2 linked regions of the Homo sapiens genome follow. The gene in region 2 interacts genetically with the main gene of each other region. Each region holds a gene or a part of one and is shown on either strand. Other genes may lie near its edges.

The links. Genes that interact genetically often act in the same process or in processes that back each other up.
Region 1: changes in GEMIN2 (region 2) and CENATAC together harm fitness more than expected from each alone (negative genetic interaction), as found in Homo sapiens cells (one large-scale study listed by BioGRID).

The regions. Positions count from the first base shown.
Region 1 is NC_000011.10:119,008,138-119,011,637, forward strand, and holds part of CENATAC (centrosomal AT-AC splicing factor), read left to right. Parts: intron 1-2,626; coding exon 2,627-2,693; intron 2,694-3,083; coding exon 3,084-3,146; exon of another isoform or gene 3,147-3,174; intron 3,175-3,500. UniProt on the Homo sapiens protein: Component of the minor spliceosome that promotes splicing of a specific, rare minor intron subtype. Negative regulator of centrosome duplication.
Region 2 is NC_000014.9:39,120,009-39,125,110, reverse strand, and holds part of GEMIN2 (gem-associated protein 2), read right to left. Parts: intron 2,682-5,102; coding exon 2,568-2,681; intron 120-2,567; coding exon 75-119; intron 1-74. UniProt on the Homo sapiens protein: The SMN complex catalyzes the assembly of small nuclear ribonucleoproteins (snRNPs), the building blocks of the spliceosome, and thereby plays an important role in the splicing of cellular pre-mRNAs.

The DNA.
Region 1 (3,500 bases), on a different chromosome or scaffold from region 2:
TTCTAGTCGGGTGGGATGAGAGACGGAGAAAAGAAATAAGACACAGAGACAAAGTATAAAGAAACAACGGTGGGTCCAGGGGACTGGTGCTCAGCACACCAAGGACCTGCACCGGCACCGGCCTCTGAGTTCCCTCAGTTTTTATTGATTATTATTTTTCATTATTTCAGCAAAAAGGAATGTAGTAGGACAGCAGGGTGATAATAAGGAGAAGGTCAACAAATTACATGTGAGCAAAAGAATGTATATCACGATTAAGTTCAAGGGAAAGTACTATGCCTGGACGTGCACGTAGGCCAGACTTATGTTTCTCTCCACCCAAACATCTCAGTGGAGTAAAGACTACAAGGCAGTATCACTGTAAACATGTCTCGCCTCCCGCCACAGGGCAGCTTTTCTCCCATCTCAGAGTTGAACAAATGTACAATCGGGTTTTAAGCCGAGACATTCAGTTCCCAGGGGCAAGCAGGAGATAGTGGCCTTCCTCCATCTCACCTGCAAGAGGCTTTCCTCTTTTACTAATCCACCTCAGCACAGACCCTTTACAGGTGTCGGGCTGGGAGACAGTCAGGTCTTTCTCATCCCACGAGGCCATATTTCAGACTATCACATGGAGAGAAACCTTGGACAATACCCCGCTTTCAAGGGCAGAGGTCCCTGCGGCTTTCCACAGTGCATTGTGCCCCTGGTTTATTGAGACTAGAGAATGGCAATGACCTTTACCAGATGTACTGCTTGTAAGTATTTTGTTAACAAGGCACGTCCTACACAGCCCTAGGTCCCTTAAACCTTGATTTTATACAACACATGTTTTTGTGAGCTCCAAGTTGGGTCAAAGTGGCTGGGTCAAAGTGGCTGGGACAAAGCTACAAATCAACAACATCTCAGCAAAGCAACTGTTTAAAGTACAGGTCTTTTTCAAAATGGAGTCTCTTATGTCTTTCCTTCCTACATAGACACAGTGACAGTCTGATCTTTCTTTCTTTTCCCTACAACTTATTATTATTTTTGAGACAGAGTCTTGCTCTGTCACTGGCCTGGAGTGCAGTGGCCCGATCTCGGCTCACTGCAACCTCCACCTCCGAGGTTCAAGCAATTCTCGTCTCAGCCTCCCAAGTAGCTGGGATTACAGGCACCTGCCACCACATCTGGCTAATTTTTTGTGTTTTTGTAGAGACAGGGTTTCACTATGTTGGCCAGGCTGGTCTTGAACTCCTGGCCTCTTGATCCACCCGTCTCGGCCTCCCAAAGTGCTGGGATTACAGGCGTGGGCCACACCGCGCCTGGCTTAAATGATTTTTTAAAACTAAGTGGCTTAATATTCTGCAATTTTAATCTGAGAGGGGTGGAACAGAAAGCCCCATACCTCATCAGAACCTGGGAGTTGATGAGAAACCATTTGATGACAACCTCCTAGGGGAGATGGGGAGGGAAGTGGGAGATGGCCTCATAGCAGCTTCTGGCAGACCTTCCACCCTCGTGTTCCAGGAGGATTAAACAAGCCTTTCAGCCACAATTCGGTAAGGTGTGGCTCAAGCCATTGTCTCCTTGGATATATTCAAGGCTCTCAGGGAACACTGTTGATAGTGGTATTGGTATTATACTGAAACTTTGTGTTGAGAACCAGGGTTTTGAGAACCAGGGTTTTCACTATGGCAAAAGGAAGATACAAGTAAGGAATGGAGGCATTTGAATAGGGAGGTGACAGTACAAATTACTGATTTAAGGCCAGGCATAGTGGCTGATGCCTGTAATCCCAGTTCTTTGGGAGGCCAAGGCAGGAGAATTGCTTGAGCCCAGGAGTTCGAGACCAGCATGGGTGACATGGCAAAACCCTGTTTCTACAAAAAACACAAAAATTAGCCAGGCATAGTGGTGCTGTCCTGTAGTCCTACCTACTCAGGAAGCTAAGGCAGGAGGATCTCTTGAGCCTGGGAGCCTCTTGAGCAGAGGTTGCAGCGAGCTGAGGTTGTGCCACTGCACTCCAGCCTAGGCAACAGAGCGAGCCCGTCTCAAAAAAAAGACAAAGAAATTTAGGACAGTATGCAAGATTTGGCCTGGATTCTTCTGAGGATGTGAAGTAATGGAAACAGTAAGACTGTTCCAGACTAGGGGAAGACTAGAGACCTAATAGCTGGATTCCATGTGATCTTTTGTTGGACTTTGGGATTGGAGGTGAGAGTAGAGAAGGCATAATGCACGTTTTTGAGACGAGGGAAATGTGAATATAGCCTGTATGCCTACACTCAAGTCTGAAGACATGTAAACCATGTCTATACTAACCAGCCAAATATTTGAACACTAAAAGGAAGAATTTTCTTAATGTGGTAATGGTATCATGGTTGTATAGAATGTTCCTCCTCTTGGGAGATGTGTGTTGAAAATAGGGTTTGACGTCTAAACCTATTTTGTTTTGGCAAAAAGGACGTGTGTCTGTACAAAAGAAGTGGAGCCAGTATGGCAAAATGTTTACAAGGACTCTGGGTGAGAGGTACATAGGTGCTTACTATACTGTTTTGTTTCTGAATTTGGAATTTCTCAAAATTAAAAAAATATCTACTGAGGAGCTTTTCGTTTTAACTGGTGGGGAATGGGTTCTGGGTGGTTTTGCCCCTTTTCTTTTTAGATTCAAGAAATCCATGGTGAAAGGTTTGGATTCCTATGAAGAAAAGGAGGATAAAGTGATCAAGGAGGTAAGTTAAAGTAGCAGTCCCTCACCCTTTTTGCACCAGGGGCTGGTTTCGTGGAAGACGGTTTTTCCACAGATGGACCCAGGCAGGGGATGGTTTCAGAATGAGACTGCTCCACCTCAGATCATCAGGCACTAGATTCTCATAAGGAGCACGCAACCTAGATACCTTGCATGCCCAGTTCACAATAGTGTTTGTGCTCCTATGAGAATGTAACACCACCACTGATCTGACAGGAGCTCAGGCGGCAGTGCTGTTGCAGCCTGCTTCCTGACAGGCCACAGACCAGTACTGGTCCACGCCTGGGGGTGGAGGGCCCAAGTTAAAGGAAAGGCCTCTGAAGAAACTGGCCCCCATGATCCTGTACCTGTCTAAGCAGCCTCTCTCCCACAGATGGCAGCTCAGATCCGTGAGGTGGAGCAGAGCCGACAGGAGGTGGTTCGGTCTGTCTTAGAGGTTGGTTTCCCTCGGAGGATCCAGACCAGTATCCAAATCCACTGATCCCTGGCATTCCCAGGTCCAGCATTTCATGGACTAGTGCTTCTTCTTCTTCTTTTTTTTTTGGAGACAGAGTTTCGCTGTGTCACCCAGGCTGGAGTGCAGTGGCACGATCTCGGCTCACTGCAACCTCCACCTCCCAGGTTCAGGTTCAAGCGATTCTCCTGCCTCAGGCTCCCGAGTAGCTGGGATTACAGGTGCCGCCACCACGCCTGGCTAATTTTTATATTTTTAATAGAGGTGGTGTTTCACCATGTTGGCCAGGCTGGTCTTGAACTCCTGACCTCAGGTGATCCACCCGCCTCAGCCTGC
Region 2 (5,102 bases):
ATGTATTAACAATTCAAATACTTTCACACACAATGCAAACAAAAGAATGCATATATCTCTATTATTAATTTTACCTGATTCATTCTGCTAACAATACTAAGCAAGGGAGGAAAACCAATCTGAAAGAAAAAATGAGACTGAATTTTACTAAATGGTATTATAAGCTTCATTTTTTTTTTTCAAACTGGTGAATTTCTTGCCACACTGTTGTTTAGAAACAAAGAACAAATAAAAGAAAATTCTTTCATTGTCCATAACAATGAGACATTCCGGAAACTACTATGTTTGTAATGCGGAAGAAAATAACGCCTTAAATTTTGAATATGTAATTTTTTTTTTAGATGGGGTCTCACTCTGTCACCCAGGCTGGAGTGTAGTGGCGCGATCTTGGCTCACTGCAACCTCTGCTTCCTGGGCTCAGGTGATGCTCCCACCTCAGCCTCACGAGTAGCTAGGACCACAGGTGCATGTCAACACGCCCAGCTAATTTTTTTGTATTTTTGGTAGAGATGAGGTTTTGCCATGTTGCCCAGGTTGGTCTGGAACTCCTGAGCTCAAGTGATCTACCTGCCAGAGCCTCCCAAAGTGCTGTGATTACAGGCATGAGCCACCTCACCTGGTCTGAATTTGTAAATTTTTAAATAAAGTATGATTTTAGTAAGTAAAATGTTAAAGACTAAAAATTTTTTACATGATAGTACTTGAAAAAACTAACTTATTAAGTATATCCAATAAAACTGTAACATTGATAAGATGACATTAATATGTTGTATACACCATTTCAAAATCTTCAGCTAAAGCTAATATTTTCAAGAATTAAGGACACTTGAATTAGAATGACATTTTTAAAACCTAATTTGATTCAATTTTTAAAAGTCTACTTTGGAGTCTGAGGCTGTGATTGCTAATTATGAAAATACCACTGATTTGTGAGAAACTTAAGAGGATATACATTAAACGCTTACTTCCTTAAGGGTTTTTTTTAACATGGTGTATTTTACTTGTATGTATTCTCTGAAAATAAGCTAAATAAGTAAGTTTTAATTCTTTATAAATTAAAAACCATTTTTGGCTAGCCATGATAGCTCATGCCTATAATCCCAGCAGGAGGATTGCCTGAGCCCAGGAGTTTCAGGCCAACCTTGCAACATGGTGAAAACTTCTCTCTACAAAAAAATTTTTTTAAAAAATTAAAAAACTTATCGCTACAAAAAATTTAAAAATTAGCTGGGTGTGGTGGTGGGTGCCTGCTGCCCCTGGTATGTTGAAGGCTGACGTGGGAGGATTGCTTGAGCCCAGGAGGTTGAAGCTGTAATGAGCTATGAGTGCACTACTGCACTCCAGCCTGGATGACGGAAGAAGACCCTGTCTCAAAAAAAAAAAAAAAAAAAAAAAAAAAAAATATATATATATATATATATATAGCTATTTTTGAAATGTAGCATATGTTAAGGATATCATCCAAAAGATCAATTGGTTATATAGAAAGAGTACCAAATTAACTTCCCTAAGATTTGAGTCTATTTATACTCCTGTACCACGTCTAAGAGTGCTTGTTTCCCCAGCTCTTGTCAATATGGTGTATCAAACTTTCTTGGCCAATATGTTACCTGAAAAATAGCACCTTGGCATAGTTATGTTATACTTCTATTACAAGTGATTTTTGGCATCTTGTCATATAAGAATAATTTTATTTCCTTTCTGTGAGGTATCTATATCCTTTGGCTATTTTTTCTTGGGCAGGGGAGGGGTGATTCTTGGTCTTTTTATTGATTCTTGGGGCTTTTTACATTTTTAGGAAAAATTAGTTTTAAATGTGAAAAACACAATGTGGCACCATATAGCAAATAATAAATACCTGTTGAACTGAAAAGAACTACATGCTATAGGGAGTAAGCGCTAATGCAGAGGCATGCACTGGATTCTCAAGGAACACCTGCAAACTTGGGGGCAGGTAAATCCTGAAGGACAAGGAGTTGTCTACATAACTTATGATTACAGCCACATGAATTTTAAAGATATCCTCAACATTTCATCTTTAGAATATGTGATTTATTTTTTACAGGCCCATGAAGTGATAGATGTGATTATGCATTTTAAAGCATCTAATTGTGTCGATTTCCATTTTTTCCCTGGCTACTCATAACACTGTTTGCCTGATGCCTCATCATTTAAAAAAACTATGAATCTTATCCAACTCATAAAATGATTACCAAGCCAAACATAAGGGATATGAAGCCAAACTAAAAAAAGTCACAGTAAATTGTTTCAGAAACTAAGCTGTTTTGTTAGGTTGAAGAGCTAATAAACTAAGTCTGGGTTGGCAAACATTTTCTATCAAGAGTCAGACAGCAAATATTTTAGGCTTTGCAGGCCACATAAAGTCTCAGCCACATATTATTTGTTTCTTTTTTACTCTTTCAAAACCTAAAAACAATCCTTAGCTCATGGATATAAAAAAGGCCATGAACTGGACTTGGCCCAGGGTAGAGTTTGCTGACCCCTTATATTAAGTGGTGCACCAAAATTAAAATGCTTTTTGTTCTGTTTATCCACACAGCCCTTACTTGTACATAATCTATTCCAGGACTTTCATTTGTGGCTGGTCCAACAGCCCCGTCAGCACATAACTTTTCACCCAGACAAAATTTCTTCCAGCCTTCTTCATCTTCAGATTTTGGCTAAAAGAAAAAAAAAAAAACTGATTTATTCCTGTGTATTAATTTTTACACTGAACAGTAAAAAAAAAGAAGTTAAGTCCTTCCATATTCCCATTACCGCAACCCAAAGATACGGAGCCAGTTATGGGGAGAATCTCTGCCCCCAAATTTGTATGTTAAAACCTTAAACTCCAGTACCTCAGAATGTGACTGTATTTGGAGACAGGGCCTTTAAAGAAGTGATTAATTTAAATTGAGGCCATTAGGGTGAGCCGTAATCCAATCTTACTAGTGTCCTTATAAGAGGAAATTTGGATTCACAAAGAGACACCAGGGACTCCCACACACAGAGGAAAGACCACGTGAGAAAACAGGGAGAAGGTGGCCCTATGCAAGCCAAGGAGAAAAGCCTCAGAAGAGACCAACCTTAGGCCGGGTGCGGTGGTTCACGCCTGTAATCCCAGCACTTTGGGAGGCCGAGGCAGGCGATCACATGAAGTCAGGAGTTCAAGACCAGCCTGGCCAACATGGCAAAACCCCACCTCTACTAAAAATACAAAAAAAAAAAAAATTAGCCGGATGTGGTGGTGCACACCTGTAATCCCAGCTACCCAGAGGCTGAGGCAGGAGAATCACTCGAGCCTGGGAGGCGGAGGCTGCAGTGAGCAGAGATTGCGTCATTGCACTCTAGCCTGGGCAACAAGAGCGAAACTCTGCCTCAAAAAACAAACAAACAAACAAAAAGAGACCAACCTTGCTGCCACCTTGTTCTTTGACTTTCAGCCTTCAAGACTGAGAAAATAAATACATTTCTGTTGTTTAATCCACCTAGTCTGTTATGGCAGCCCTGACAAACATAGTGCCTAAGTGGCTACACAATATGTGGGACATGTTGTTTTTCCTTATTATTACATTTTTTGAGACAGGGTCTTGCTCTGTCGCCCAAGTTGGAGTGCAGAGGTGTGATTACAGTTCATTGCAGCCTGAATCTCGGGCTCAAATAATTCTGCCACCTCAGCCTCTTGAGTAGCTGGGACTACAGGCATGTGCCACCATGCCTGATAATTTTTAAATTTTTTTTGTAGAGATAGTTGTCTCACTATGTTGCCCAGGCTGGTCTCAAACTCCTGGCCTCAAGCAATTCTTCTGCTTTGGCTTCCCAAAGTGCTGGGATTACAAGTGTGAGCCACTGTGCCCAGCCAAGATGTGTTTAGTTTGGACAAGACTTTAGTGGACACTGACAGACAATGGTGTGTCCAAAAGAGGATGATAAAGACAGAAATAAGTATGGGGGAAAAAATGCACCAAGAACACTTAATAGAATGAAGGATATTTATCCCATGTAAAGAGACATGATTACATATTTCACATATTTGAAGGGTTGTCCAGTCAAAGAAGAAACAGATCTACTCATGCTGCCAGACAGAAAAAGCAGGACGCAGGACTATTTGGGAGAAGCATTCAGCTCAATATAACCTCCTTAACAAAATAACCTTTGTTTGTACATATCACCTTGTATATTACTTTGCATAGGTGCATTTTCCCCCTAGGGATAAGTAGCTTTCATTAAATCCTTAGGATGAATCACCTGAGGTCAGGAGTTCGAGACTAGCCTGGAAATATGGTGAAACCCCGTCTCTACTAAAAATACAAAAATTAGCTGGGTGTGGTGGCAGGCACCTGTAATCCCAGCTACTTGGGAGGCTGAGGCAGGAGAATTGCTTGAATCCAAGAGACAGAGGTTGCAGTGAGCCAAGATTGTGCCACTGCACTCCAGACTGGGCAACAAGAGCAAAACTCCATCTCAAAAAAATAAATAAAATAAAATAAAATAAAATAAAACCTCACGATGAACATGAGACCACTACAAAGTTAAACCCTATTGTCTTGGAATAAGGTTATCTACCTTTTCCTAACACTCTATTAGGTCAGAAGCTGTTTCTGTTTCAGTTAGTACTGAATATCCTGATTATTAAATATAGCACATGCTTAAATTATTGGATCAATTAATAAACAAATGTTTATGTTTTCACACAGTTGCCATCACAGTGTACTTTATTTTTTAAATAATTTAAATAGAGACAGGGTTTTGCCATGTTGCCCAGGCTGGTCTCGAACTCCTGAGCTCAGGTGATCTGCCCACCTCAGCCTCCCAAAGTGCTGGGATTATAGGCATGAGCCACTGTGCCTGGCTCAGAGTGTACTTTAAAACATTTTCATTTTATTACTTATATGATGTTTGCATTTGCCATGACAAACACTTAAAATTGCTACATAATATTCCACTGTTCTGATGGACCATAGTTTATTGAATCAATTATGTTAGGTCATTTCCATTTTTGACAAAATTTTATCAAGTCATAATGTTACTGATGTGGCTTCTTTTTTAGTTAGTGGGCATGCACCCAAAAGGCCTTCCGCTAAGTAAGAAAAAAAATATAT